Regions from separate parts of the Homo sapiens genome. Here regions 2 and 3 are each linked to region 1. Evidence: fine-mapped expression QTL. A gene starts in region 1. Each other region holds a variant in brackets. All regions are shown on one strand. Distances are between the middles of the regions.

Region 1 (10,802 bases):
TATTCTAGGCAGATAATGCCAAGGGCAACGGCCCAGGAGCATGGGAGAGCAGTGCACATCCAGGGATCTACAAGTAATGATAAATAGACACATTTTTTTCTGTCATTATTTTTGTGCAGGCTTCTATGCTAAGTGTCTTGCATACATTATTTAACTGAATTCTCATCTAAACACTGTGCAGCAGGTACCATTCTTATTTCTATTTGAGAGTTGAGAAAAACAGAGGCTAAATAACATACCTTAGTATTAACCAAAGATAATAAGAAGTTAGGCTGGGCTTCGAGCACCAGTCTTTTGAATATCATAATTTGCCTGCTCAACCACTCCATGCCACTCCAGTAATTCTGTGTGGCTAGAATGTTGAGGCTGGGAAGGAGGCAGGGAGAGAAAGGCAAGAGATGACACAGAAAAGGTGATTTTACTTTAAAGGCTCCAGTGAGCCTCTGAAGGATTTTAAGCAGGTGTGTGCTATGCTTAGATGTGCATTTTAGAAGCCTCACTCTGTGGAAAGGATAAAGTACAGATGAGAAGAGAGCCAGATTGGAGACAGAGAAATCAGACAGGCAGCTGGGCACTGCTCCTGGTGAGAGATGACAGGTTTTTGGTCGCATATAGTGGCGATAGAGATGGAGAGGAGAGGAGTGATTCCAAAGATAACCCTTGCAACTGATTAGAGAGAGGTGAGGATGGGATAGAGGTAGGGTGAACGACAGTGAGGGAAGGAGTCCAAGTTTATTTTGGGGTTTCTCTTTTGGATGAATTGGTGAAGGTTGATGTTATTCAACAAGTGATGGAGCATAAAATAATTAGGAAAAAATGATGAATTCCTTTTTAGACATGCTCAATTCAAAATGCCTAAGAAACATTAATAAGAAGACGTGTACCAGTCAGACTGAAATATGAATCTACATAGTCATCAGCCTACACATGAAAAATCATGGGCTTGGGTAATATCAGTGTATGGAGGAAAGAAAGAGAACAAGAATGGGAAGGGAGCAGATGAAGCAAGGGTACAATTTAGAAAATGTAACATCTAGAAGGCTAGAAGAATTAGGAGACTCCATGAAGACTAAGGAGAGTAGGAGGAACATGATCAGAAAGAAAAAGCAAGAGTTTCAAGAAGGAGGGGAAAATCTGTAGCATCCAGGACAATAGACAGCAATGTCTTGGTCACAGTGACCACCACTGCTCACCAGACCCGCATGTTCCAGACACCATACCCTACCGGGTACTTATGTGAAGTCTCTCTGTTCTTAACAACATGGTTGCAAAGCAGTGGTGCTGGTGGGGAAAACAGTGACTAACTGTTGAATACCTGCTTTGTGCCTACTGTTTACTAAGCTCTTTGCACACAATACCTCATTCTTGCTTTTACAGATGAGAAATTTTGCCCGTGATAAAGATAAAGACAGGGAACACTAATTGTAACAACACATAGGGTTAAGGGAGGATACTAGGCACTGAGGATTTCTTTTCTTTTTTTGCTTCAAAATGGAAGAGCTCCAAGTTGAGTAAGCTAGTAGCACACAGTGGCATAACACAAAAATGTATCCTCAGGGTAAAATAGTTCATAGGAAGATCACCATTATTAGTTAATAATTTTGGCCCATGGCACTTACTACTCCTGAGTCCTAATTTTGCCCTCTTCAGTTAGATAAACGATCACACAGAATAGGCACTTATGGGGAGAAGTCTCTTTCTCTGTCCTGCCTCAGCCTTCACCACAAACATCTGGTGTTACTCTTGTCTCACTGCATTAAAATTATCTATTAAAATAGTGTTTCCTTAAGTTGTGTATGTTCTGCAAAGGCAAGGCCAGTCCTTTTTATCATTTCCCCAGCTTGCCTGTCAGTTGCCTGGATTGAAGCAAGCAATCAATAAATGTCTGAAGATAATTAAATGTTTTAAACAGCTATTTCCAATGACTTAACTATGGCCTTCTTTAACACTAGAAATTTAAATTGAATTTATCTGTCAGAATCCAAACATAAAAAACTAACTTTGACTAAGGTAAAACAGAAAAGAAAGTTTTGGAAGGATACTAGGTCTCTCAGGAAGTCGGCAGAAAGCCTCGAGATCAAGATTGGAGGACAGGGCTGCTGAAATCACAGAGTGCCATTATCCATTTGATTAATTCATCCTCAGGGCTCCCCTGGCACTGTGGCCACACTCAACACTACACTGTGAGTGTCTACTGCCATTAATAAACTTCCCCGCACATCCCTTGATTCAGGTTTAAACACACAAGTGAAGTGTCCTATCAGCTGAGCCTAGCTCTCAGCCTGTGCTCCAGCTACCAGAGAAGAGGGAGAGGATCTCCTTTCTTTCCTTCAGAAGGGGCGAGTTCTGCCCCCAGTCAGGAAACACACCATGGGGATAGGCACTTAAAGCGGAAGGGGATTTGGATCCTAAGCTGCCAAGGCAACAAAAATGTCCACTAACCTGACTGAAAGGATTCTGAGTCATCACTCAAAAGGGAAGGATAACCTTCCCTAGAATTTAAGATATAAATAAGATAGATTCCCAGCTGTCTGAAATGGTTTAGATAATAGTTCTTCTACAAGGCAGAGATGGATTGAAATACAATATATTCCCACACAGCTATCATCTCCTGAAATGCTAGAAATATCTTCACGTCAAAGTCTTATCATAGGAAGCCTGAGAGCTGGAATCTGGAATTACATTTCTATTTTTTTTAGGCCCTTGCTACAAAGAAGTTGCATTTCCTCCCTCAAGTCGGTTGTCTGCTGTTTGTGACTGATACTATGCACAGCAGTGAGGCATGTGTGTTTCACGAAAATGTGTGAAAACTGCTTTCAAAAATGCATGCCATCTAGATAAAAAGAAAACTATAAAAATATGTTTGGTTGCCACTTCGTAGAGCCTATTGAATTTGTCTGTGAATGTGAATCTAATTGCCATTTTTTCTACTACAGCCTCTGTGAACATTACATTTCCATTAAAAAGAGAAGTCAGTTACAGCAGAATGTATTCCTGTGTTCACATAGGAATCATAAAAATAAATAATGATCGGTTGATTGCTTAATAATTTATGTTTCTCCTTGATAGACCATTAGAGGAAATAAGCAAATCCACAGGTACAGAAAATGTCATTCATTGTCAGTAAAGTGTTACAAACAGCTTCCTGTAACTGAAGTGTTTGTAACTAAAGTGTTACAAACAGCTTCCTGGTTTTGAATGATGACTGCTGATTATTCTCCTGTTCTTCATTTATAATCAGAGAAAGTCTCCTTTATTAACTATTCTTGTTACCATGGGATTGGCATAAAAATATTATCACTTGTGTGGTTGAATTTGAGGGCTGAGGGACCCGCACAACTTGGGTTAGAGGGGTCAGACTTAAACTGCACTTGTTGCAGAAAAATCTATTCCATTCTTCATCCAATGGCAGGAATAAACAACATGTTATTTTGATAAATTCAGTAACTTGATGTTAATGGTTGACAGCCCCCCTCCTTCTCGTGGTTTTTCTCCTTCAGTGATTTGAATGACCTGTGTCTATCTGATGGGTTGACCAGTATGTTTTTTTTTTAAATGATTTTGTATCTATTTTGATGAACAGTTGTCAAAGAGAAGGGTCTATTCTCACTGTTCAGGTAAGGAAATTTGCAGTTAATTAGGAAAATGCACATAAAGATGTCAGATGAATATTCCTAAAGCACAGCTCCAATCAATATCTCACCCCTGATTAAGTTTAATGTCTCTAACTCTCTACCTAATTAAGTCCAGAGTTCTATCCCCGGGCTTCACAGATTTTCATCCTATAGCCTCTGCCTATTTTCTGAGATTTTATTCTACTTTTTTCCTGTACTGTATGTACAGCACAGTTAAGTTTGGTGATTCTTAATCCTTGCTGCACATCAGAATCACATGGAAATCTTCAAACAAACAAACATTAATCCACTGGGCCCACCGCATACTAATTGAAAGTGAATTTGAGGATGAAGCACAGGCATCAGTTTGGTTTGTGTGTGTGTGTGTTTGTGCAGGGAGGGTTAGCTCCTTATTTTGGTTATCTATTGTTACAAATCCAACCACCTCAACACTTATTTGTATGAAACGGTATACATTTTATTATGTTCCCAATTCTGTGGTCCAACTGTTCTGACACAGCACAGCACTGGTAGTGTGCCTTTACTCCATGATGCCTGGGGTTTTGGCTGGGACAACTCACATGGCTAGGGATGTCTGCAAGAGCTGGGAGCTGGAGTCATTTGCAGGCTTCCTCATTGACATTTCTGCTGCTGAGGCTGGGATAATGCAAAGGCTCTGCTTAGCTATACCTGTAAGCCAGGTGTCTACACTTGCCTTTCCATATACCTTGGGCTTCCTCAAAGCATGGTGGCTTAAGGTAGAAAAACTTCCTATACGGAAGTTCAAGAATCCAGGAGCAAATCCACTGTAAAAAGTGGAATTGCAAAGGCTTTTATGCCCCTACCCTCGGAAAGCACATAGCAACACTTCTGTTCCATTTCATTCATTGTAGCAGTCACAATCTTTCAGATTTAAGGGGAGGGGACCCACTTCTCTATAGGAAGAATGTCAATGAATTTGTGGGCACATTTTAAAGTTACCACACACCCCAGGTGATTCCAATGTACAGGCAGCGTTGAGAACAACTGGATTCATTTTTTTTTTTTGTAAGCACCCATCTACAAAGGAGCAGTGGGACTTGGGTGAAGTGAACAAGACACCTAGGGTGCAAAATTTAAGAAAATCATTCTCAGGATCATGCAAGCACAGGATAGAGATTGAGAGCAAGTGCCTCCTTACATTCTGTGCTCAAGTGGCCCCACTTGCCACACCCTAGTCCTGAGCCTACTACATAGCAACTGTGTATGAATCATTAGGGTGAGGGGGACTTGGATTTCTGGACTAGACAGTACTTTAGTATTGGGATTTGGAAAGCCCAGGTAGGATCTGGGATTCTGTATGTTTATAGGAATCCCCAGTGGACTACTTCCAGCTTCCACGTGCTTTCCTGGTGCCATGCTTTGCTTACGCTGTTCCTTCTGCCTGGAAGTGTTTTCCTTCTATTTCTATCAAGCATGGAGTATCCACTGATTTTTAAGGTCCATTTCATATACCGCTTCTTTCATCAAGCTTTTATTGGTCCCCCCAGCCAGAGTGTAACCTGTCTCTCCTGAGAAACCCCTAGCATGTTTTACATGCCTTTAAGACACTCACATGTTGATCAGCATTTTGGTTGTGTGTGGGCCTGTCTTATAGGAAGAATATGTTTACTTTTCTCCAAAGGCCACAAAATGGAGATCTGGATCCTCCTCACCCGTTCTCACTGGTAGAGGCAGAGTCTTGTTTAGACAAGGTTCCCTCTTTTTTGCCTTATCTCGCTCCCAGATAGCTCAAGTTTGTAACCAACACATACACATTTTAGATGCCCAATAAACTGGATCTCTCTCCTGATGAAAGGTGTGGTCAGTTTCCTATTTTTACAGCCTTCGCAGAAGCCGTCAAATATTGAATAATTACCCTGGTTTAAATGCTTAAACACAGATAAGGACTTCGTCTTGTGACTTTGGGAAACTTCATATTTGAACATTACCTAACAATCCTTGCCCCATAGCAAACGTTTCGAAGCCTACTCTAGGCAGAGTTCATAGCACCGCCTTTGTCAGCAGCACTGCCATAGGTAAGCCTCAGAACCCTCTGGGGTGAGACCGGTGTAACCATTTTACTGATGAGGAAAAGTGAGGCTTACAGGTTAAGTCCTTCGAGCGCAAGATAACACCGAATGGCTTAATCCCTACACCAAACCAGCTGCTCCTCGATTGCTGGTATTCGTGAACCCTGCCCCCGCCTTTGGGGAAGGTCGGGCAGACAGGCCACTGGGACCAAAAGCAGAGTAGGTAGAACCTCTCTGAGTTCCTCCCTATTTATGGCATCCACTCAGGTGAGGCTGGGGGCGTCCTTACCTTGCGCTTTGGCTGCTCAGGACAAACGCCCTGCCATTCGTCCCTTCTCTCTGTCCGGACGCCCTCCTCCATCCCTGCACTTGGGGCCGTCGTGGGGCTGGTAGGGGTCCCCAGGCTATCTCCAGCCGTGGCCGATGGCCGTGCCGGGGGCAGAGCCCGCTCCCCTCCGCGCGTTGCTACGTGCGGGGATGACATGGATCCAGACGCCGTCAACTACGGGAAGGAGGAGGCGAGAGTTGGAGCGCGTGGGAGCGCAGAGGCCGGAGGAGGGAGGGGGGGACACCGAGCGCGGAGAGCGCGGAGAGCGCGGAGGGAGGCGCGCGCGGGAGCGAACACCCTCCCGGATCCAGAGCCCGGCGGCGGCGAAGCAGCAGCTGCGGCCGCGCCCTTGCCAGAGCCGGTGCGTCCGCCTAGCCCCGCTCCGCCTGAGGCCGTCAGGGCTCCCGAGGATGGAAGATTCCCAGGAGACATCGCCGTCCTCCAACAACTCCTCGGAGGAGCTCAGCTCTGCTCTGCACCTGTCCAAGGGCATGTCGATCTTCCTCGACGTAAGTACAGATGGTGGGAGCTGGGCGGTTGCTTCCCAGCACCTTTCTTTTCCCCGAAAGGAAGGGGTTCGGCTCAGGTGCTGACCAGCCAATGCTTTGTCCCCAGAACACAGGCGAGAACTACCGATGCAAATGCAGGAGGAACGACTGTCCCTTAACTTGCAGCTAGGGCTGTCCCAGACCTGCAGCTTGTGGCTTAACACCCTTAAGAAAACTGCAAAAGTTAGATTTTCCAACAGGCTGGGTTTCGTAGAGACACTATTGCAAATACAACAGACAACATTTGAGTGCATAGGACATTTTAAAGAGGCACAAGGTGTGGGGGGTGAGGTGGGGACAGTGTCCCAACTCATCTCTCTAACGCGCCCTATTCGCAGCCTTCACACTCGTGGATGCTCTCAAGCAACCCAGCCAGGGAAGCAGCAGCGATTGAGATGCCCTCGTTATCCTCCCCCAGACCCCCTCGGAAAACAATTACTTTGAGCATATTTGTTTTTCTTTTTACAGCGGTGGGAAATATCATTTTCATAATGATTCTTTTTGTCACTGCCACCTCTTCTATTTTCCCTTTTTCTTCCCTGATATTCTCCTTCTCTCCAAGTTCTAATTACTACTGTCACCTCCATGAATTCTAGCTTTTGACTATTTTCCCTTTGGTCCAATTTCTCACTTCGGTATCGACTGCCTGCCTTCATTACTCTGATCTGATTACATCCTTTCTTTTCCTTCTGTGCTGTTTCTTTTTCCCGTATGGTGTGGTTTCTATCTTTACAGCACTTTTATTTCTTATTTATTTCTCAATTTTGTTTTCCTCTCCTGCCTGCTGTTTCTGTTTTCTCTATTTTTCCGTCTGTTGCCTATCTCTTCTCTCTGCTTTGGGGTTTCTCTCAGCTGCTTGCCGGGCTCCAGGCTCTCCCAGCCCCTCAGTTGTCACATTCATGCTGTTGCCGGAGGTCGTGTCTATCTCAGTGGGGACAATTCTGTCTGCTTCTTGTTTAGGCATGATAGAAAATGTCAAAGGACATGGAGGAGTGCTACGTGCTCTGTCCTTTACCCTTCTCTGAGTTATCTTTTCTTATTAAAGTCAAAATGAGTGGGAGATGGGCCAGAAGCCAGATACATTTGTTTGTGGAGAGATGAAAATATGAGGAAATCAATTAGTATCATAATGGTGAGGCAGAGATAAAGAGGATAGGAGGATGTGAGGCGCTCTCCCAAGTTTATTTTGAATGGATTGGCTAGAATTCTTTTTAATTCTAGGGAAAGAAACTCCTATCAATAATTCAAACTGTTGTAAGGCAAATGATAGAAGTGAGGTTCAACTGTGTGTACTGGCAGCCTTCACCCTTTATCACCTGGTGGCTCCAATTGGTGATCCAGGCATTCTGGGCTGGTCATCTCCTTCCCACCAAATCTCAGGTGTGGTCATTCCTATTCAGCCACCCAATCAGGTGGTTAAGTACCTTATCCTTCATGAGCATTTATCTCTGCCTGGCTTGGGTCAGTCAGATGGTATTATTGGTGCTCATGGCTTAACGGGCTGATCTTATTCAAGTTTTGCTGTTCAGGGCCATAAAGCACTTGAGGAGGTAAGCTGAGAAAAGAGAAGGGCACCACAACATGCCTGAAAAGTCAGGGCCCCTGGAAATCATGTCAGTTATGAGGCTGACAATTAAGGGGCCATGGAGTTGATTCAAAGGGGACAAGTGGGGCCTCCATTCATTCTGACCTGATCTTCACTCTGTCCCCCATTGAGATCAAGTGCTTCCCTGTGCTTTTTAAAAAGCACTTAACAAACCCCGGTGATAGTGTGGAGATGAATGGATTAAAACTACACAAATGGAAAGTCATCCTCCTGACTCATACACCAGCCATTGCTTAAGTGTTCAACTGCAATGTTTTCGAAGAGAAAATTAAAATTTCATTTTTTATTATGTATGCATGATTGTTTCCAAGTCTGTAAACAAATAGCATCAGGTCCCTGTACTAAAGGAACTTGTAGTCTGTGAATAGGGTGGTCTTGCCTTTTATATTTCAGAGATTTAAAAATAAAAATAGGAAACTGATTCCCTATGAGAGGTGTTGACATGCTTGTTTGTCGGTAAAATGCTAGAGTCTACAAAAAAAACCTGCCATTGGATTTTGTGTCAAATGGAAAAGATTTTGTTTACACTTTTCTTTGAGTTATTTTGTGAAAAATCTAACACTGGTGAAATATGTGATATGAAAAATGATTTGTTACTTAGGGATTTGTGAATTATTCATTTCTGGATCATACCACTTTTAGCAAAATAAAATATAAAATATACATGCATCACTTTATTTATTTGATTTAATATATTCTATGGCACTAGCAAGAAAGATTACTTTTAAAATTATCTTCATATTATAATACATAGGTGATAGATATTACCTGTTCCAAACTGGAACAGGTAATTTTCTGTGTGTCTTCTGTATCAAACAGACAATTTCCAAATTTGAGGAAAACTTTGATTTGCAGTGCTTTTTATTGCAATGTCACTGGAATAATCAATCATTTAAGAAATGATGTAAACTGCTACTGAGAACACTATTAATGACATGATACATGACCAGCTGGTTGGAAACTAGAGACAGATTTTAACAAGAAAATCAGAGATAGATTTGCCACAACTGTTGGCTTTTCCTTCAGTATCCTCTCCAAATCAGCAATAGTAATCACTATGATACTTCCTTAGGCTGTTGTGAGTATGAAATAAGGGAAAATGGAAACAAAGCAAAAAGTATTGCATAAATTTGAAGTATTATGGTTATTTCAGTGCTGCACACTGAGTGTATTAAATAACAGTAACAGTAGCTAAATCCACAAACTGATGCAGGGACTATTTCTTCATGAATCTAATTTATAGAATTGTCTTGCTAGAATATGACAGAATTAAGTATCGGTTCATCATAAATACTCTTGAATACTGATGGGAGGCTTAGAAAACCTAGCACTGGTGCCAAGGTATGCCAGTGCATTGAGGCTGGAGCAAGCATTTGCATATGGCATGCCTGCCAGCCACAGGAGAGGGACTCAACTGGGTCCTGGCAACACATAGGACCACAGGGATTACTATTGCTTTTCCTTTTACACCAATGGACTATCATTTCCCCAGTTGCTGCAATCCAGTTAACAGAAGAGGAACTCTAGTTTGGAATACTAGTCTATGTAGCATGTGTCTCCTCTTTTGAGTCATTACATTAATCAACTCCGCTACTGTGAAAAGGGAGAAAAACAAACCTTCAACTCATCCCCAAAAGCAAGAGAAATTCCCAAACGAAATTAGTAGCAACTTCATCCACCCAATGCCACTTTCCTTTCCCATCAGTTTTCCTTTGATTTTTAACTGGAAGGGAAGTGACTGTTCCCCACTTCACTGCTAAAGAGGGAAAGAGGCTGGAAAGTTGTGAGGGGGATGAATGACTTTACTGCTTGTCTTCCCTTCCTTCCTTCGTCTAAGCATGCACACTCATGTACACTCTGAATGCAAGATACAGAGCATAGATGGTCAGGAACTTGGTGAAAACAAGAAATAGTTTCTTTTCACAAGGACACTTAATTCTGAAGCCCCATATATGCTCATTTGTATGATGTGTGAGATGCACAGAGGAATGTCGAAGCCGAATGAGTCTTCCAGATGCAATGGTTCTGTGACTGAACTCTGTTATAGCCACACACCTCCCATCTCACCTCATCTCTCTCACACACACACACACACACACACACACACACACTTGCTCATTTGAGTGAGATTGTCCAGTTCAGAGGATGGCAGTTAACCCCATCATTGTCTACCCTCATTGGCAAGGCAAATGTCACTCTTGTAGTTATAGGAAACAGCAGAAATTAGGAAAAAAAAATTTAATGCATGCTGGGCTTAATACCTAGGTGATGGATTGATAGGTGCAGCAAACCACCATAGCACACGTTTACCTATGTAACAACCCTGCACATCCTGTACATGTACCCCGGAACTTAAAAAATTTTTAAAAAAGTATTTAAAAATACACTTAGTCTTACTGTTATCATACATTAAAAATTGTTTTCCCACACTGGGCCTACCCTAGGCAAAATTGAGAAGATGAAAATATGTGCACTGATTCCTTCTCTCCATCCATCTTTCAGTGCCTGCTTCCCCTTATCCAGTTTCAGGGCAACCAGTGGCCTGGTAGTAAAACTACCTGCTGGAAGTCTGGGCCCACCCACCCTGGTAATGGGAGAGACTCCCATCTGACCCCAGGCAGTCTAATGATTGCGACACCTGGGCAACACCAGGCA
Region 2 (10,802 bases), 330 kb after region 1:
AAGGAAATAAATAAAGCTGGGCAAATTAGAACAGATTAAGCTCAAAAGATACTTGATTTTGAAAATAAAAACTGATGTGGAGCCATAATGACTATTCCATAGTTTGAGTCTTTACAGAGATGATCTAAGCAGGCATCATTCAACTAATATTTATTGAGCAACTATTATATTCCAGATATTGTTCTTTGAATGCTAGATGATTCACACACAGACCCTGTCATTGGAAAGTTTCCTATTTAATAGTAGAGGTAAAATATACATGTGAATCATAGAATCAACATAAATGCCCATCAGTGATATGCTGGATAAAGAAAATGTGGTACATATATACCATGGAATACTATGCAGTCATAAAAAATGAGATTATGGGCCAGGCACAGTGGCTCATGCCTGTAATCCCAGCACTTTGGGAGTCCAAGGTGGGTGGATCACGAGGTCAGAAGTTCAAGACCAGCCTGGCCAAGATGGTGAAACCCCGTCTCTATTAAAAATACAAAAAATTAGTTGGGCACAGTGGCAGGCGCATGTAATCCCAGCTACTCGGGAGGCTGAGGCGGGAGAATCGCTTGAACTCAGAGGGTGGAGGTTGTAGTGAGCTGAGATCGTGCCACTGCACTCCAGCCTGGGTGACAAAGTGAGACTCCATCTCAAAAAAAATAAATAGAAAAATAAAAATGAGATTATGTCCTTTCCAGGGACATGGATGGAGCTGAAGGCCATTATTCTTAGCAAACTAATGCAGGAATGGAAAACCAAATACCACATGTTGTCACTTATAAGTGGCAGCTAAATGATAAGAACGCATGGACACATAGAGGGGAATAACACACACTGGGGCCTATCAGAGAGTGGAAGCTGGGAGGAGAGAGAGGAGCAGGAAAAATACCTAATGGCTACTAGGTTTGGTACCTGGGTGACGAAATAGTCTGTGCAACAAACCCCCATGACACAAGTTTACCTATGTAACAAACCTGAACATGTATGTACCCCTGAACTTAAAAGTGAAAAAAATAAAAAATATATATACACAAGTCATTATAATATAAATAATAATAATTGATAATAGAAAGTACACCGTGCTATGCAAATGCAAAAGGAGGATGCCTTCATGGGGAAGATGGTAAATCTCAAGGGGAAGCATTAAGCACGAAAATCTGTTATAATTATTGGAGAACCAAGATATTGTTAGTATTTAATGAAAACAGAATCCTGAAACACATCATTACTGCAGAAACAATAAAGAATTTTTATCCAGCAAAATTAACAGTCCTTCTGTGGCCATTTTTCTCATTCCATGAAAATGTCATTCAGAAGTGGCTGTGACCTGGGACCTCAAAGCCGTGATCACTCTGCATGTACCTGTGCTCCAGACCCAGCTCTGCGGCTGCTCTGCATGCACTTGCACTTCTGACAGTGGCATCTCTGTGGCCCAAACATGCCCATGTGCTGGACCTACCACCAAGGGGCATCCCCTTGGCCACAACTACCCCTGATAGAAGGAAAAGAGATCAGCAGCACTGCAGCACCTTTTACTGCCAAGGACCCCAATATATGCAAATCAATCAATGTGATATAACACATTAACAAAACGAAAGAAAAAAACCCAGATCATCACAATAGATGCAGAGAAAGCATTTGACAAAGTTCAGCATCCATTCATGATTAAAGCTCTCAACAAAATAGGTATAGAAGCAATTTACCTTAACACAATATAGGCTATATATGAGACTCCCACAACTAACATCATCATCAGTGGGGAAAAGCTGCAAGCTTTTTCTGTAATATCTGGTACAAGGAAAGAATACTTACTTTCTCTACTTTTCAACATAGTACTGGAAGTCCTAGTCAACAATTAAATAAGGAAAAAGAAAGGCAACCAAATCAGAAAATAAATAATGTTATCTCTGTTTGCAAATGACATGATCATGTACATAGAAAAGTCTAAAGACTCAATAAAAAACCGTTAGAACTAATAAATGAATTCAGTCAAGTTGCAGGTTATAAAATCAACATACTAAAAATCAATCATATTTCTATATACAAGGAATAAAGTATCTGAAAAGGGAATTAAAAAATCAATCCATTTACAATAGCAATAAAAATAATAAAGTACTCACAAACAACCAAACAGGTCAAAGATTTATACATGAAAAATTATAAGACATTAATAAAGGAAGTTGAAAAAGATACATGTAAATGGAAAGACATCCCTTCATAGATAGGAAGAATTAATATTATTAAAATGTCCATATTACTGGAAGTGATCTACATATTCAATGCAATTCCTATCAAAATCCTAATGGTATTCTTCACAAAAATAGAAAAAACAATTTTAAAATGCATATGGAACTACAAAGCAACCTGAATAGCCAAAACAATATTGAGCAAAGACATGAAAGCTAGAGGCATTATACCTCCTGATTTCAAAATATATTACAAAGCCACAGTAATCAAAACAGTGTGTCTTAGGCATAAAAACAGACACATAGACCAATGGGACAGAATAGAGAGCCCAGAAATAAATCCACGTATGTATGATCAACTAATGTTTGAAAGGGTGCGAAGAGCACACATTGGGGAAAGGATAGTGTCTTCAATAAATGTTGGGAAAATTAGATATCCATATGGAAAATAATTAAATTGGACCCTTATCTCATATGGTATACAAAAATCAACTTAAAATGGATTAAAGACTTTAATGTAACACTTGAAACTGTGAAACTACTAAAAGGAAACATAGGGAAAAACTTCTTGACATTGGTCTGGACAATGATTTTTTGGATATGGTGCCAAAAACAAAAGCAACAATAGCAAAAATGGACAAATGGATAATTTAAAACTAAAAACCTGCACAGCAAAGGAAACAATCATCAGAATAAAAAGGCATTCTACAGAATGGGAGAAAATATTTGCAAAGCATATATATGATGTGGTTAAAATACAAAATATATAAGGAACTCGTGCAACTCAATAGCAAGAAACAAACAAACAAATAACCTGATTTAAAAATGGGTAAAGGGGCCAATAGGAGGATCATTTGAGACCAGGAGTTCAAGACCAACCTCCACAACATTGCGAGACTTGTCTCAAAAAAAAAAAAAAAAAAAAAAGGTAAAGGACCTGAATAGCCATTTTTCAAAAGAAGACATGTAAATAGCCAATAGGTATATGAAAAGGTACTCAACTTCACTAATCATCAATGAAACACAAAGCAAAACAAAAGTGAAGTATTATTTTACACATGTTAGAATGGCTGTTATCAGAAAGACAAAAAGTAAGTATTCACAAGGATGTGGAGAAAAGGAAATGTTCGTACATTGTTGGTAGGAATGTAAGTTGGTACAGTCATTATGGAAAGAGTATGAAGATTCCTCAAAAAATTAATAGTAGTATGATCCAGCAATCCTACTCTGGGTATATATCCAAAGCAAATGAAATCAGTATGTTGAAGAGGTATCCGCACTCACATGTTCATTGCAGCGTTATTCACAATAGCCAAGATATGGGAACAACCAAAATGTCCATCAATGGACAAATGAATAAAGAAAATGTTTGTGTATGTGTGTGTGTGTATATATATATGTATGTATGCACATATGTCATGTGATGCCTAACAGCATTTCAGTTAACAGTGAACCACATATATGACAGTGGTCCCATAAGATTATACGGTATTCTTACTGTACCTTTTCTATGTTTAGATACTTTTTGATACACAAATACTTACCATTATGCTACAATTGCCTTTAGTATTCAGTACAGTAACATGCTGTATTGCATAGGTTTTTAGCCTAAGAGCAATAGACTATACCACATAGCATAGTAGGCTTATAGCAGGTGCATAGTAGGCTTATACCATCTAGGTTAGTGTAAGTACTATGATGTTCACACAATGACAAAATTGCCTAACGATGCATTTCTTAGAATGTGTCCCCATAGTAAAGTGACACATGACTGTATATGCATTGGAATATTACTTAGATTTAGAAAAGAAAATTCTATCATTTGCAGCAACATGGATGAGCCTGGCAGACATTATACTAAGTGAAATAAACCAGATGCAGAAAGACAAATACTACATGATTTCATTTATACATGGAATATAAAAATGTCAGACTCAGAATCAGAGAGTAGAATGGTGGCTACAAGGGTCTAGGGAGAGGGAGATAAGGGGAGATGTAGGTCAAAGGGCACAAAGTTTCAGTTATGTAAGATAAATAAGTTTTGGAGAGCTAATGCACAATGATGTGACTATAGTTAATATTGTATAGTATACTTGAAATTTGCTCAAGGGGTAGATCTGAAGTGTTCTGATCATACATACGCACACAGAGAAGAAGTTACAAGAAACAGTTTGAGATAAATGGGTGGAGAAAGCTGTTAAATAATAGGATGAGATTTTCTTTTGCAGGCCATCTATTTTATTCAGAGGTTGAAAACACATGCCTCCAGGCAGGTAACATATGAGAAAAAGGGACTAGGAAGGAACTGTGGCTAACTGGTAGCTCATACATGCATAGTCAGTAGTGACAGTCCAGCCAGTCCCCAGCACTGGTGGATTTTTGTCACAGCAGGATTGTGTATTTAAAGGTTCTGTGGAAAGAAATACTATTTTTTAAAATACTGTGTCTATTAGTCATACCAGTTTCTGAGCTAAGAGTTTAGGCTTAATTCAGCAAATGGGATGCATTGTTCTCTATGTACTAAAGTATGCAGGAATATTTCTTTAAACTTTTCCAGTCTAAATGTTTCTTAAATTTTTGCCCAAACATCTGGGAAGATCTCTTAGTTTCTATCAGAT[A/G]TCTCCCTTTTTGCAATTTGTAAATCAAAGCGATTTTCTAAATTCAGTCAAGTAGGAGAGGAAAATAGAATTGCTGTTGGTGACTGTGGCTCCTAACTATGGTTAGTGAGTTCTGAGGGTGAAACAAAGCTGACCCTGGAGTTGTTCCTTGGCACTTCCAGCAAGGCTGCTTCAGGTTCCTTGCCTGTGGTTGACCCTGCACATGGAGATCCTGCCAATCCCACTCATATTTACAGGTATCACTCCTGCAGGTAAGCCTAACATACATGTCTCTTCACCGTGAGCCAGGTAATGAATATATATGTGTAATTTAATCATGGTTTATAACCTATGCCTAATAAAAGAGTGCTTGTGAATTTAGAAATGTTTGAAAAAATGAGTTAGAAATTAAGAAAATAAGCAGGTTTTAAATTTGAAAACTAGTAAAGTGTCAATATGTATGTATGTGTGTATGTGTGTGTGTATCAGGTGTTTACTGCATTTCTAGCACCAGGTATGGCTAACATTTTACCCCACAGTATTTTCCTGGGCCTAAAAGATTACCATTTAATAATATCTGCTATTTGCCTGGCACTTTATTAAACTGTCTCTAATCCTTAAGACAACCCTAAGAAGTAAATGCTAGTATCCCCATTTTTATAAAGAAATAGAGGCTTAGGAATTTGAGTGACTTGCCCAAGATCACATATTCAGTACATTGCATAGCAAACAGCCTGTGCTTTGCCTACTGCACAATACAGACTCAAGAATGTGCACATGATAGGACAAGGATATTTAAAATGAGAATTTCATGTATTGTATTCCATTTCATTTTGTGAGCATGTGTATGTGTGTGAGCATATGTGTCTGTATACATATATATATATATTTGTATCATGTGCATATGTATGATCATTCTGAGCAATAGTAAATTCCTTTTAAAGATGCGCAGTGTATTACTGAAGACAGTGGAGGGTAGGAGTTAGGAATATAGGCCGTAGAATGAACCTAGGTCATTTCACCATAAATCATAGCCTGGACTTCAGATCCCTTTTCTGTAAGATCAGGGTTATTGCGAGGTCCACATTAGACAAAATTCAGCTTGGCACAGTGTTTCATATATTTGGCACTTAATTTAAATTTAATTTAAGTATTGGTCAGTATTGTCATTAATAATCTGTATGTTTTCTCCTTAAATTTCTTGTCTTCTCTCTTACTTATTAAAAATATCACTATACATTGAACCTAGATTCTATAATCCAAAGGCATCAATGGACATTGAGATGCTTGCCTCATATCCAAGATGTAAGAGAAAGTGCACATGCCTATTTTAAGGCAGGCCACAGATAGGCTATAACTTTCAGGTATGAGTGGGTCAATACAATCAAACAAATCAGATAAAATTTAGTAAGAGCATAGACAGACAGTATTTGGAGCAAGTATACAAAGACATAGAAAAGACTATCTACAGGGAGGTTGGAAACATTTAGGATATACTGGGTAGAGAAATTATAGGTTCATCTTTTGGGCAGCTGTTTAGATACAATCTAGTAGGATTGAATAAAGGGAATTTAAGTCACAATACATCCATTCTTTACATCTTTTGCTATGTAATGCTACAGGCAGGCAGTAATGAGTACTAGGTTCATTGCAATGAGATAGAACTGAAAAAGGTACATCTAAAAGGATTTTTAAGACTAAAACTTGGTGGCAGATTGAATTTAGGTGGAGGGAGAGAAAGATGTTCTAGGTAGCTCCAATGTTTGGCCGCCATAGGTTTATGAGAAGTGGGAGAAGCAGATCTAGTTTGTCCAGGGGGCATTGTCCAGTTTTATACTTTGAATTTAGAGTGATCCACTGGAGTTATCTTAGAAGCCGAAACTAACAAGATCCACTTTTTTTTTTTTTTTTTTTTTTTTACAGGGATAACTGTAAATTCCTACATTTAGGTTAAGAAATGAATTCAATTGCACAAGTCCAGGATGTGGGATATCTGCTTGACAGTTAGCTTAGGGGTTTTTATTGGCCACAGACAAAACTAATTATGCACCAACAATGTGCCTTGTTGCTGAAAGAGTACATGCCATGTTAGGCTGCATAATAGAAGTGTTGTCATCCGCCAGAGGGAGACCCGTGGTCCCACTAACATATGTGCTATGAGAGCTGATTTCCTGTCTCACCATAGGCTCCATCTTTTCAGAGAGGGGTGCTCACAAAAATTAGAGAGTGGTCAGTATGGTCAGGGGTCTGGAAATTATGTCCTGAGGGAAATAGTTAAGGGAAAATGGAAAAAATTTAGAGGGAATATGATAGCAATCTTCAAAAATTTGAAAGATTATGTGAGAGAGAAGGAGTGCAAATATTTATTATGATTGCTGTGAGAAGAATTGGGTAGAAATTTCAGAGAGCCTAAATACTAAAAAATTAAATATAGATAGCTAGATCTTCCTAACAAGATAAAAGTGCTACCCATTACTGGGTGTGCTCATGGGGAAGGTATATAATTGCCCACCTGCATTCTGTATGTTGGTCTAGGTGACTTGTAAAATTTCCTTCTAGGCCGGGTGCGGTGGCTCATGCCTGTAATCCCAGCACTTTGGGAGGCTGAGGCAGGCGGATCACTTGAAACCAGGAGTTCGAGACCAGCCTGGCCAACATGGCAAAAATCCCATCTCTACTAAAAATGCAAAAAAAAAAAAAAAAAAAAAAAAAAAAAAAAAAAAAAAAAAAGCCAGGCGTGGTGGCACATACCTACTACTTGGGAAGCTGAATGAGAATCACTTCAACCCAGGAGGCAGAGGTTGCAGTGAGCCGAGATCATGCCAATGCACGCCAGCCTGGGTGACAGAGTGAGACTGTCTCAAAAGGAAAAAAAAATTCTTCTAATTGTAAGTTGCTATAATTCCGTGGCTCATGGGTCTATGAGTAGCAATGGTGTCTTTCAATCTATAGCAATCAGTAGCAATGGTGTCTTTCCATCTATAACCATATCAATTTCCAAGGGAGAGAGAATACCAATAGAACTTCATTCTACATTTAATTACTGAAGAGATGCAAGCTTTAAAGCTTATCAAATAGTTGTCTGTCATATGACTAAAGCCTTCCTTCAGGAACTACACATAACCGTAGAGAATGTTACTAATGAAACACTGCCTACATTCTTTCTGTATATCTGCTATTTCTGCAGTTCTTTGTTAGTAAAACACCATTTGAAACAATGTTGTCAAAGCATTCCAAATATCTTACATCAAGTGTCATCTTCTCAGAGAGTACTTCTCTAATGACTCAATCTAGTCCTGAGTTACTTTCCATTGCATTATCTTGTTGTCTTTTTTTCATATTTAAGACTAACTACTAACACACTATTCATTTGTTTACTTATTTGTTGTCTGACTCACTTCCCAACATAGAAGCATTGTAGAGAGGGATCTTGTGTGTCTTGTTCACTCTTCCTCTAGCATTCAGAAATAGTACCATCATAGACATATCTTAAACATAATTGAATTAATGAAACATCTAGGTTGGGGCTTGAGGTATTTCTCAAAGGTAACTCTATCCTTGCTACAGTGTTTCTGGACCTTTCTGTATAATTTAAGTAATCTACACTGAAGCTCTGATGTATTTGCCATGGTGACAGAGTATAAATGCTACTACCTAGTCTTTAAGAGACATTTATGAATTTAAAGGCAATCAGTGAATCTTCCTTTGGTTATCCTATGCTATGAAGAATATTCCCAGTCGCACTCACTTCATCTTAGTTTTGACTTTGAAATCCTTTACAAGTTGAGGTTTTTATGTGAACTCTCTTCCTCTTCTCCAAGCTACATTCTTGGTTGCAGAGCTCAGAATTTCACATGGTAGCTTCTTCCAGTCAAAGGACCATGTGGTTATCCAGATAAAATGTCTTTTCCTAGGTCATCTATCCATTTTATAATATCTTGGGAGCTAACTTGGATGAGATAATCAACTGTGGTTGTCGTTCACCCTACTACATTCCCCTAGATTGCCTTTCAAAGTGACTTTTTCCTTTTCCTCAAACCTCCTAATCTCCTCCTCTCAGCAGATGACTTTGTTTCATATTTCCGTGAGAAAACAGACATCATCCTTCAGGAACTCTCTCATCTTTTCATCACGAATTCATCTACTTATCTGATCCTCACTCACCCTTTCCTACCTTCCTTCCTACTACCCTTGATGAAGAGCCCTTTCACTTATCTAAGGCCAGCACCCACTTGTACTTTGTACCTGTCTCATCTTCTAAAGGATTTTGATTCTGTGAGTGTCCCCATATTTAAGGCATGAGTTTCTAATCCCTACAGGGTTATTTCCATCAGCACATAAATAAGCTATACTATCATTTATCTTGGGGGTGGGGGGGAACTCCAGCTTCTTCTTCATTTTCTAGTTTCCCTTCATAGCAAAAGTTCTTACAAGAATTGTCTATTAGTTGTTGTCTTTGCTTTCTCACATTTTCTGCACAGCCCACTTCAATTAGACTTTCTTCCCCAACACTTCACCCCTATTTTCAAGGTCACTAATCACTTTCCAATTGCTAAATCCAGTGGTTATTTTGATGCTTTAATTTTGTTTAGCCTTCCCCTGGGATATGTCCCAAATTTTCCTTTTTAAAATACTTTTTGTTTCTTTTGCTTTTGCCTTGGATTCTGTTACACTATATATCTGGGAAATCCTGAAACATAGATTTTTGTAATATTGAGGCATTTCTCTCAGAAGAAACCTTCCCAGGAGTGAGGGAATCTGGACAGGGCAGGGAAAGAACCTGGATAAAGAGGTGGTTCCAGGAGAAATGTAGTCTCAGCCCAATCCCTTCAGAGCTTTGGGGCATGCCCTGCAGCACAGAGGCAAAGGGGTTGGGCTGTTATGTCCTGGCATCTGCCATGGTGTAGCAGCTGTCTGGAAGGATGGAGCAGAGGCACAACCTTCCAGGTAAAGCCCTTCCTTGCAGTTAAGGGAAATTCTTCCAAGAAGGGCGCAGGAGAAAGTCCTCACGGGATAAATTCATGGTAGCTGCGGATGGAGCACGACTCAGCTGTGGGATGTGGTGTACCAGATGCTTTAAGTGGCCTATCTTTGCCTTCTACTTCAGCCACTCCTCAGTCAGTTCCTCTGCTGGGCTTGCATTCTCATCTCTTAAAATTCCACATGATGCCTTTTACTTACTGAAAGCTCACAAATTTATTCTGTGCTCTTGATTACTCCGGAGAACCCTAGAATTACATTTACAGCTCCTACTTGACATTTTCATTTAAAGATCTAAAAGGCTTCTTAATTTTAACAGGGATAAAACTAAACTCTTGATTCCTTGTCCCTCCTCCAAACCTGCCCTTGTCCCAGTTTCCCCATCTCAGGTGCTCAAGTTCCAAAGTTAGGTGCTACTCATGATTCTTCTATTTATCTTACATCATACAACATTCTGGCTCTTCATCCAAAGCATATCCCAAACCCATCCACGTCTCTCCAGGTCCACCATCCACTACCTAGCTAAAGCCATTGCCTCTTGCCTGCACCACTGCAGTATTGCCTCTGTGTTCTCTTTGTGTTTCACTTCTTGCTACCCCTGCAGATTCTGCTGTACAGATGCCAGGATGATCCTGTTAAAACACATGTCAAATAATGTTACACATATGCTTAAAACCCTACAGTCATTTCTCACTGAACTTAGAGTAAAATCCCAACCCCTTACCCTAGTTTATGAAACCATATGTAATCTGGCCCAAGTATACCTTTCCAACCTCTTTTTCGCTGAGTGTTCCTCTACCTGCAGTGCTCAGCCACATTAGCTGCATCTCCTGGGGCTCCTCAACCACACCAAGAATGTGCCTCCATTGGGGTCTTTATTTTGACAATTTCTTCTTCCTTATTGTCACTCAGATCTCAGTCTATATATCAACTTCTAAGACAGGTTCTCCTGATCAACAAATCACTTTCTCCTCACTCTTTAAATTGTCTCTAGAACACTTAATACTGTCTGTTATTTTTGTATTAATTTGTTTAGCCATTT
Region 3 (10,802 bases), 220 kb after region 1:
TTCAAGGGCAGGAAAAGAGTGTCCAAGTTCCAGAAGAGTGAAAATTGCCTTTCCACTGCTTTTTTTTTTTCTATTGGGCCCCCAGCGAATTGGATGGTGTCCACTCACATTGAGGGCAGATCTTCTCCATTCAGTCCACTGTCTCCTCTAGAAACACCCTCTCACACATATCCAGAAGTAATGCTTTACCATTTCTTTAGACATTCCTTAATCCAGTCAAGTTGACACCTAAAATTAATCAGCACACCCAGGATGATCAATAGTATCAAATGCTACAGAGAAAACAAGCAGGATGAGAATCAAAATATGGAATTTATTATTGGGATGTGAATTTCATTAGAGCAAATTCAGTGGCCCACTGGGGATGGATAGCTAATTGTGCCTTATTCCAAAGAGAATGGGGTGCAATAATCAAATGAAGGTATAAGCCTTGGAAAGAAGAGACATGCATCCCTCTGAGAAGAGGAAATGAAGTGAGCATGGATAAAGACAGGTTTACGAGTATGAAATACAAAAATGAGAGAATTCACAGATAGCCTCAATTATTTCAGAGATAGGAGGCAATTCATTGGATGAGACCTGGAGAGTTGGGGGTACTGAGGTGGGGGTTTAGGAGGAATAGTAGATATCTGGAGATAGCTGTTTTGGGAAATGGGAAGTCAATCAAGGACACTTAGGAATATAGATCAATTTAGATAAATTACAAATCTATACATTTGTAAAGAACTGAATACAGAATTTTTTCAACTCTCAGTTATCTTGGTGAAGGAAGGGAGAAGCCATGGCTATATTGATCCAAGATTGCTGCTTTGAAAAGCAGATAGATGGAATGATGATTAACCAATCTAGCAAACCTACTATTCTATATCTAATATGTTGAAAATGAATTTATCATCTTCTGCCAGACACATTTCTTCTAGATCCTGCATGTCCTGTCTCAGTGAATGGTTCTACAGCCTCTCAGAAATAGGGTCATTCTTGATCCCAATCTCTCTCTCTCTCATTCTTTCACATTCAGTCCTATCCATTCCATTTCCTTACTAGTACATCTATACTCTGACTCCTTTGTACCTTTGCACAGGTAGCTCCTTCTACAGTGCACCCTCTTTTTCACACAATTCTCACTCATCTTTTATAACTTAGTTCATATATCACTCCCTCCTGAAAACCTTCACTCAAGATCCCTTTCCCTCTAATCTGGATTAGGGACTCTTCAAAGCAGAGCATTCTGGTCATACCTCTTTCAAAGCACTTAAAACTTTATAGTAATTAACTATTCTCCCCACTATGCCCACAAGACTAAATTCCTTGAAGGCAAGATTATATCTTTTATTTCAAGCAATCAGTACTTAGCACAGAATTGTTTGTTGAATTAATGAATAATTATAAAATATAACACTAGATGGCAAAATAAATGGATAACACTTGAGAATAAGCCCACTATTGTTTAAAATGGCAGGAGGTGATTCACAAAAGTACATCAGTGATGTAAAAGAAATGATATTCAATGATAATTGTCATGGATTAAATCAATGTCTCTACTAGTCATAGGTCCATTATAACATTTGCATGGAAACATAGTCCAAACTGTATTTCAGAATGCTACAAGTACACCTTCAGTCTGGCAGTGGCCACAAGCCACCTAATTAAAAGAACAACATCACCTTTAGCTACCATAGTACCAGCTACCATTCGAGTAAGAAACAGCAATATGAGAAAATGCCCCTCAGTCTTTGGAGCTCTAGGGGAAGCTTTCCCCATACATTTTGTGAGATAAAAGCACATAACACACTTGTTTCACAGTAATAAATTTACCAACTTCTGTAACTTAAAACTAATTTTAGGATATTTGTGTTTAAAGAAAAAAAATTCTGTCTCAGAATCTTACTCCAACAGATGACCCATCATTTTGCTCTGAAGGAAAACATTCAAAAAGAAAATAAATCTAGATACCAGCTAGGAGTGTTCATGTGGTCACAGTATTTGCACTCAAATAAGTAATGAATGCTCTGAGTCCTCCCATGTTTAGCATGTGACTCTGATTCTACAAACCTTCCTCTTAGAATAATGTTTAAGCTGATTTATTCCATGTGAATTTCTATGTAAGTTGTTCCCTAAGTAGTTGATACAAATTCTTCTTCATATTAATACACTGTCTTGTGATATTTTAACAAATCACGGAGTATTCAGACATTCAATACTTCCTTATTAGTAGTAAAAATATTGCCATTGTACGAAAATAATTAACCAAGCAAGTCCCTTGAGCAAAATCCTTAACCTCTCTTAACAGTTGCTGATTTGTAAAATTACAAAAATCATCCCTGTATTACAGGATTGCTGTAAAGATTACAGCTAGTATATATGTATATATAAAGCAACTATCACTCTGCTTAGCACACAGTCTGCTAACCACAGAGGTCTCTGTCAGGCCAGGTGCAGTGGCTCATGCCTGTATTCTCAGCACTTTGGGAGGCTGAGACGGGTGAATCACCCGAGGTCAGGAGTTCGAGACCAGCCTGGCCAAAATGGTGAAACCCCGCCTCTACTAAAAATACAAAAATTAGCCAGGCGTGGTGGCGTGTGCCTATAGTCCCAGCTACTTGGGAGGCTGAGGCAGGAGAATTGCTTGAACCCCGGAGGTGGAGGTTGCAGTAAGCTGAGATCGTGCCAGTGCATTCCAGCCTGGGCAACAGAGTGAGACTCTGTCTCAAAAAAAAAGAAGTCTCTGCCTTTTCTTTTCTATAAGATCTTTATTTCCATTTTAATGTTCTTGGTGAATATATTTGCAATTTAATTTTGTACATTTTCGTGAAAATACACATAATACCCAGAAATATGTATCATCCATATGCATATTCACATACTTTGGAGGGGGGAGTATAGGTGTGTTCCTCAAGTACGTATATATTATTTTGTGCACGTATTAAGGGTTTATCCACTTTGCTTCTCCATGTACAGACTTCTATTGGATTCAGTAAGGAATCAGAATGATTAATTTCACAAATAAAAAAGAAACTATTTTTTATAAGCTAAGATATGCTGTAAAGTTATTCTTACAGAGCTATATTTAGTTGAAATCAGATCTAGCAGAGATGGAGATATTTTGCTACACATATTCTACTTCCAAATACTTTTTAATTACTTTCTCCTATAAACCATTCTTGGGATTTCTCAACTCTCAATGTAGATAAGGTATTTATATCATACTAAGGATCACACAAATTAAAATATGAATATTATTTCAAACCTCTTATTTTCAATAATAAAAATTGGATTGTCTAAGCATTCCAGTTTAATTTACTTTGCTTCAGTTATAATTCACATACATAAGAGGATAACAATAATTTTTTAAATTATAATTTTATTATCAAAATAGATGCAGTGCAGAAAAGAGTTAACACAGTAGGCCTGAGACTGCTATCCTTAGAAAGCCCTGCTTGTAAGGTTGGCCCTTAGCTGGCATCTAGAAATTTAGATTTGGGGAGAATTCCCATCATTCCCTAACTGGTAAGAGTGGCTTATTATGTATAAATTGTTTGTGTAAACAGTATGGTTTATGCTAAACATAAATTCCATTCAAACAGGAATTTGGAATTTTGGTGTGTGCTAGGTAGGATGTGCCTGTGTAACCAGCTCCAGTAGAAACCTTGGGTACTAAGTCTCTAATGAGCCTCCTGGTAGACAACATGGTACATGCATGGTAATAATTCACTGCTGGGGTACTTCACTGGGAGGGGCCCCTTGGAATCTTGTCCCTAGTTTCCTCCAGACTTTGCTCCATCTGCCTTTTCCTTTTGCTGATTCTGCTTTGCATACTTTTGCTATAATAAATCATACCTGTGAGTACAACTATATATTAATTTCTATGAGTCCCTGTAGAAAACCAAGGAACCCTGGTGTAGTCTTGGGACCCCCAACACAGATGCTATAAAATGTCTTTAATCAAAATATCTTCTATTATTTTTCATTTTATATTGTCATTATTTTCATTAGGTGCATCATTTAGGAATAGAGAGAAATAGGCTAAATAATTAAGATAAACAAATAATTATATAAATGCTGCTATCAGTAATAATCTTATTAGGCAGGAGATGAAAAAGGCCAACAATCACCTAATTATGAAGTCCAGAACAATTTGAGTTTTCTCCTAGATTACAGCCCATTTTATAAATGTAAATTTTAGATTATTTGTAACAGATTATAATATCCTAACCAGGTTACTGATAATTTTTAGCAATTTCACTTTCTTATAATAGAAATTGATTTCCCTTTAGATGATGATAATCAAGCCTAATCATTTTAATTTCAAAATGGGATATATTTGTTTTAGGATATCTTTTTAGTCTTAAAAAGCATAAATACATTGGCATGGATTCACTCCACAGCATGTTTTAAAATCAAAATCTACTTAAGTGAAAATTCTGAACTCTTCAAATTTGTCTCAAGTATTTCTCAATAATATTTCCAATGGTAGGGAACTTACATTTTTTTGCAGTGTGGGCATTTTGCCAGAGTGTTGAACCTCAGTTCCATCCACTGTAAAATAAA[C/T]AAAGAGAGGAATTGAAAAGAAAACAACTGAAAACTATCCAATCTGATAAGACATTTCTTTTACTTTAAATGTCATCAGGGATCACAACAGAAGCAATCACCTTCTCACGGTTACATGAGTTTTTCCCTCCAATACTTCTCTCCCTCTCTTAAAATACAATATGAGATCCTCCTCTGAAATAGTTCCCATGACTTTTCCAATGCTCTGACGCAATCTAGGTTTGCTTTACATGAATACTGAATGTAATACCATAATTGGGGTCATCTTGTTCAGTAAGTCTCAGTTCACTTCCAACGAATACAATCATATTTCATATACCATCAAAGTTATTTTTCTTTTAAGTCTTGAGGGCTGGCCTTTTAAATACTTGAATATTTAGATTCATTACTAAAATTAAACTATTTATTCTACTTATGTGAGAAAGTCACCAAGTACATAAACTAAAAAGTCGGGAACTGTTTCCTGTTCTGTCATTGCTTATACAATATAACAAAAACACACTGCTTAGTACAATTTTCTTCCCTGTAAATCTAAGTAATAAATGTGCTACCTTCCTCACATGAATGTTATTCAGATACTTGAAATGACTTACTGGTTGTAGATAGTCTTTGAAGGAATATGCAATATAAATTTAAAGTAAATCTTTATCCCATGAAATATATTTTGTTAAATGACTTTCTAACAATCTTCTTCTATCTTGTTTGCTTTTCTATATACTTCCTTATAAAGGGTATATTTCCTTGATAGTTTTGGGAAAATTTCTTTAAGTACTTTGGCAGTTTATCATCAAAACAACATATTTTTATTAAAATTGTTTCATTTGGAAATCTAGGCCAACAATTTTTCTTTTCAGAAGGCTCAAATTCTAGATACGGGGGTTTCAATAACTTATGGATATTCAAACGTTTTCCACACAATAGAAGATACCTTTTAGAAAATATCTGATGCATACTTTTTTCTTTTATGATTAGAGTTAAGAAAAGAAAATATAAATTTGGGTTTCCTAAACTCCTTTCTCTTCATTTTTATTTCAAATCTCATGAAATTTAGTTAACCTTGTTATGATCTCGCTTAGTCACAACAGGAACATATAGTCCCAAGATAAATAAAAGAGAAATAAAACTTTACATGAATGTTCACTCTCTTTACAAAATGATTATTTTTAAACATCTGCAAATGTCAAACCAAGGGCACTTATTTTTCAAGCTAGAGTGAATATTTCTCTCATTAATTATGAGAGAATTACTTATAATATCAATTTGCAACAAGTTAATTTATTTTAAAACTGCTCTTAAAGTAAAAATTCTTGAGTTAATGTGCTAAACAGATATTAATATAGATTTCTACAGAAATTGGTATAGAACATTAAGCAGTGGAAGAATATAGAACTATTATTAAGTGCTTTTTTATGTTTCTGTTACAGGCTTAGGATAGTTACTGAACTTGTAATGTCATTTCAAATGTTATTTATAAATAAAAAATTTAAGTTTTTCATAGTTAAAAGAAGCAAACTGGTTTGAGAAGGTAATTATGAAACCTTTGAGTCAAGAGTAACTCAAAATCCAAGACTTAAGGCTAACAGACTGACATAGGAATTTCAGTATTTTAGATGATGCCTAAGGAGATTGTTTAGTCCAATGTTATCATTTTATAGTGTTCTTCATTTTAGCACAAATTATGCATGATAAAATCAATGATAACTGACAAACAGTAGGGACTTTATTCTGTAATTAATGTATTACATTGCCAGCAACCTACCACATCTGGTTTTGTTGTTATCTGCAAGTACTCACTTAAACGGAGCAAACTAATAACAAAAAGCATCTATTATTAGAATAATTTTCTTATAATTTATTCAAATGAATCCCAAACCTATGCTTTGGAAAAGAAGTTGACTTAGTACTGTTCTCTCATCTAAAATCTGGCCTCTGGATTCTTAAAATTTTATTGCCAGACCTTGAAGTCTCATTATACCAAAAAGAAAAAAATCTTAATTATATCAGCAAGATTAAAAGCAACTTCTCTAAAACCCAATCATTTTTAGTAGAGATCTTCTAAAATTTGACTTATTTCTAACTATTCTATAACATGTAATGGATAAATTGAGTTTCCCCAAGATATATTTTGCAACTAATCTTAGAAGATTTGTAAAAAAAAAAAAAAAAGCTATATTGCTTAAAACTAATAATTTAATTTTATAGTATCTTACTGAGATAGATAGATAGATAGATAGATAGATAGATAGATAGATAGATAGACAGATAGATACAATAGGCAACTGGTAACACTTTGAAATATGTTCAAGTTAAAACTATTATCCCTCTCTGCTATGGCACCCATTTGTCCCTAGATACAAATGAAAAAAATCTGGCCCTGCCTGAAGGTACTAAATTGGCCCACTTCAGGGCAAAGTTAGAACTAAGTTGTGTTCACTTTTATTAAAGAACAACAACCCTCAGTCAATGTTGATTAACAAAGTATCTGGATATGCCTTTTACCAGCAACAGAGACCATGGGCCCTACAGAAATGTAATAGTAAACTCTGCTGTTCAGTTGTGTTAAGAAACTTCTTTGCATTTATGGAGAACTAGCTAAAGGCTTTATAAGTCAATTCATTCTTCTGGGAAATTATTTTTCAAACAATGCCCTTCAAATCACCACTCAGGCTAGATGATCTCAAAATGGTTTGGAGGGTAAAAAATGTTTGGACATACAACATAAAAACTCCCTCTTAAATATATACAATGGTATATGCTAAAACTGCTAAAGAATATCCTATTTTAAATTCTGTTTAATTTTTTAATCCTAGCAATTCCCAACGAACATGGAACTCTTTACTCACAAACACCTGTTATTAACCTATAAAATAAATGTGCCATTGAATACACTTTGGAAAACGCAAATCTGGCTTTTCTACATTTATCCATGGTCCCAGCTAGGCTGTGGTATGAATAGTGTAAATATTGTGAATTCCTAGAAAATTTAACCTTACCATTATAGCACTGGTATATTAAACAATGTTATTATAAACAGAAGGATGCTGTGAGAATATGGAGAAGCTAGTCTCTAGCTTGCATATTACTTTAGCAATTGTGTTTTTTTCTGGGGGTAAAATATCAAAATTAAATTATTTTTAAGTATAAATTTTTTAAATAATAAAAGCCTTGTCACATATAATAGTTCTTTTATCTTAATCCTTGAGAGAATTCTCTCTCAGGAGAGAGAGCTCATTATTTCAGGAAAAGCATTTCCTATGTGATCTTTCCAATAAAATATCTTGAGTATTTTGTCACAGGTCATATTTTCTTTTCTTTGACTCTAGAAAACTCAGAGCTAAGATTCAGCCTGATTTTATCAACTGTATTAGACTAAATATTAGCATACTCATATTATGCATGACTTCAGGTTGTTTTTTTCTGCCCTAATTATTATTTTTCCTGATTTTTTTTCACATTTGATTTTCAATCATATTGAACTTAGTGTATCTTTGTAACTTATCTCAATTGCTTTTAGCCTTGCAAGCTAAGTCTAAAACAAAGTAGGAAATGAGTAAATGAATTAACCTAATAATTAACAGTGTGAAGGGCAAATAACATATTATGAAGAATATAAGATTAGTCAAGATCAGCATAATAATAAGGATAAGGCTGTAAGAACTTTGTAGTCAGTGTATTCTTCATAATACTGAGCATCTCTCATTAATCCAAAACTCTCAAAAGTAACCAATACCTCTCCTATAGGTGTATACAGTGTTCCCCTAATCAACAAAAACTTCCTATAAAATTTTGAAATCATCTTTAAATACTGTATTTTAATCCAAAACATCTTTTCTTGCTAAAGAATTAAAGTTTTAAATAATAGTTACTCTGCTAATATGATAATATGATTCACTTGCCTGCACTGAATGTTAAGTAAGGAAGAGCCAGCTTTAGAAGTTAGTCTCTGAAAGAGCCAGCTTTAGAAGTAAGTCTCTGGCTTGCACATTACTTTAGTAATTTTCTTCTTGGGGAAAAATATCTAAATGTACAAATTACTTTTTAATATAATAGAAACCATGGCACATACATATCTACCTAAACTCTCAATTTAGATCATTCTCTAGAATTCATTGCCAGATGATTCTAAAAATTAAATATAAACCTTTATAACAACTGTCTTTTTGATTGTTCTTTTCTCCTCATTCCCTTTTCTACCCTATTAGTACAGTCAATTCTCTCTCAAATTCTTTATGCTATTCTTGACTATCATCATCACTTTGCTGAAAAATAAAAGCCAAAATTCTAGCCTTGTGCTTTTTCAGGCTTGTCTCTTTGCTATCCATTCCTCTCCTATTAGGTTAGAAAATTTCATGAAAGCAGAGACTGTGCTTCCTGTTCACCACTGTTTCCCTAGCACCTAGCTCAGTGCCTGGTACACACACTCAATATATATAATTGAAAAAATAAAATCATTCCTTTTGTAATGTGGCTACAAGGATTATCCATGGCAAATATTTGGAAGATAAAACGTAACAAGAAAGAATGCAAGGTAGCTGTAGAAGGGAGATCTCCAGAAGTAGGTTGAAACAAATCTATATTGAAGATTTTAAAATTGTGTTACTGTCAAAAGTTTGTTCACATATGAAAAAGAAAATAACAAATATGCTTTATATATTTAATTTAGTTAATTCATTTAATATCTATTGGTAACTATAGAGTACGTTAGTTTATATTAAATCAGTATATACTGATTTTTATTTATTTTAAAGATAGGGTCTCATTCTATCACCCAGGCTGGAATGCAGTGGTATGAACATAGCTCGCTGCAACCTCCAACTCCTGGGCTCAGGTAATCCTCCCACCTCAATCTCCTGAGTAGCTAGGACTATAGGTGCATGCCACTACCCCTGGCTAATTTTTAAATGTTTTTGTAGAGGTGAGGTCTCTATGTTGCCCAGGCTAGTCTCAAACTCCTGGCCTCAAGTGAGCCTCCCATGTTGGTCTCTCAAAGCACTGGAATATCAGGGCATGAGCCACCATGCCCAGCCTATAGTGACTTTTTAAAAAGAAAGTTGTTACCTATCCCCACCAAGTATATTTTCTAATTTACGTACTTAGTCACTGATTTAATCAATAAAATATAAATGTAACAAAGGAGACATATCCTACTAAATCAGAAAAATCCTAGCAATTCTGGTTAAATACAGTAAATTGAATAAATGCATGCATTTCCATTTTTTTCCAAACCTGACTAAAATAATAGTAATTGAATTTTGAAATGTATAATACCATAAGGATAAAAAAAGAGGGACTATGACTTCAAATTTTTGGACAATGGAAAGCAGATGGACTTTGCAACTCACTTAGCGAAAGGGATGTTGAAACTTAACTACCTACAGAGAGATAAGCCAATAATGGCAGGCTGCTTCACACTGAAAGACCCAGAATAGACCCTATACTTTTAAAGGTGGAGGCTGGGGTAAGGATAAAGCAGGAGTATCACAATCCCAAGCTCATTGCAGCATTATTCATAAAAACCAAGATATGGAAACAACCCAAATCTCCATCGACAGATGAACGGATAAAGAAATTGTGGTATATGCATACAATGAAATATTATTTAGCCTTAAAAAGAAGGGAATTTTGCCATTTGTAACAACATGTATTAACCTGGAAGATATTATGTTAAGTGAAATAAGCCTGACACAGGAAGACAAACACTGCACGATCACGCCTGTATGTGGAATGTAAAATAGTTTAATTCATAGAAGCAGAGAGTAGAATGGTGGTTGCCAGGCATTGAGGTGGGTGAGGAAAGGGGAGATTTTAGTCAAAGAGTACAAAGTCTCAGTTAGGCAGGCTGAATAATTTCTGAAGATCTAATGTACAGTATAGTGACTATAGTTACCAATATTGTATTATATACTTGAAATTTATTAAGAAGGTAGATCTTTAGTATTCTTACCACAAAGACACACACACACACACACACACACACACACACACACACGATAACTATATGAGGTAATCAAAATGTTAATTAACTTGATTGTGGTAATCATTTCACAGTATAGACGTATATCAAAACATTAGGCTGTACACCTCAAATATACAATTTCTGTTGGTCAAATATAACCCAATAAAGCTGGGAAAAAAACAGAAGTATTGATTGCAAATTCTCACAAAACCAGAAAACCACCCTTCCCCAATATATTAAGAGAAGAATGATTTATTCTGTAGAGAAATTGGACTATAGAGCTTGTGGACCAGGAACA

Direction of the effects. Positions count from the first base shown, and alleles are read on the strand shown. Sizes are in standard deviations (SD) of each study's normalised expression. Not every link is listed here.
For the expression in thyroid of the gene that starts at base 6,292 in region 1, allele C in region 3 goes with a higher level than allele T (small effect, 0.17 SD a copy in GTEx).

The links. PIP is the estimated chance that this variant, and not a neighbour inherited with it, causes the effect.
Region 2: its variant is the best candidate, but not a certain one, in a credible set for the expression of NECAB1 in unexposed skin (GTEx, PIP 0.84).
Region 3: its variant is the best candidate, but not a certain one, in a credible set for the expression of NECAB1 in thyroid (GTEx, PIP 0.53).

Annotation. Positions count from the first base shown.
Region 1 is chr8:90,785,484-90,796,285 of GRCh38, forward strand. NECAB1 (N-terminal EF-hand calcium binding protein 1) reads left to right here and starts at 6,292. Exons shown (of 13, transcript NM_022351.5): 1 at 6,292-6,502. The coding sequence starts at 6,404. It overlaps LOC105375633 (a long non-coding RNA gene), which reads right to left and starts at 6,685. Exons shown (of 4, transcript XR_928389.4): 1 at 5,955-6,685.
Region 2 is chr8:91,110,885-91,121,686 of GRCh38, forward strand. All of the region lies in intron 1 of LRRC69 (leucine rich repeat containing 69), which reads left to right. Among named protein-coding and RNA genes, the nearest start is that of LRRC69, 14 kb to the left of the region's middle. RefSeq lists a silencer at 8,684-8,884. The variant A/G (reference allele first, on the strand shown) is at 4,802.
Region 3 is chr8:91,004,260-91,015,061 of GRCh38, forward strand. PIP4P2 (phosphatidylinositol-4,5-bisphosphate 4-phosphatase 2) reads right to left here. Exons shown (of 7, transcript NM_018710.3): 5 at 4,484-4,536. Among named protein-coding and RNA genes, the nearest start is that of C8orf88, 24 kb to the left of the region's middle. The variant C/T (reference allele first, on the strand shown) is at 4,549.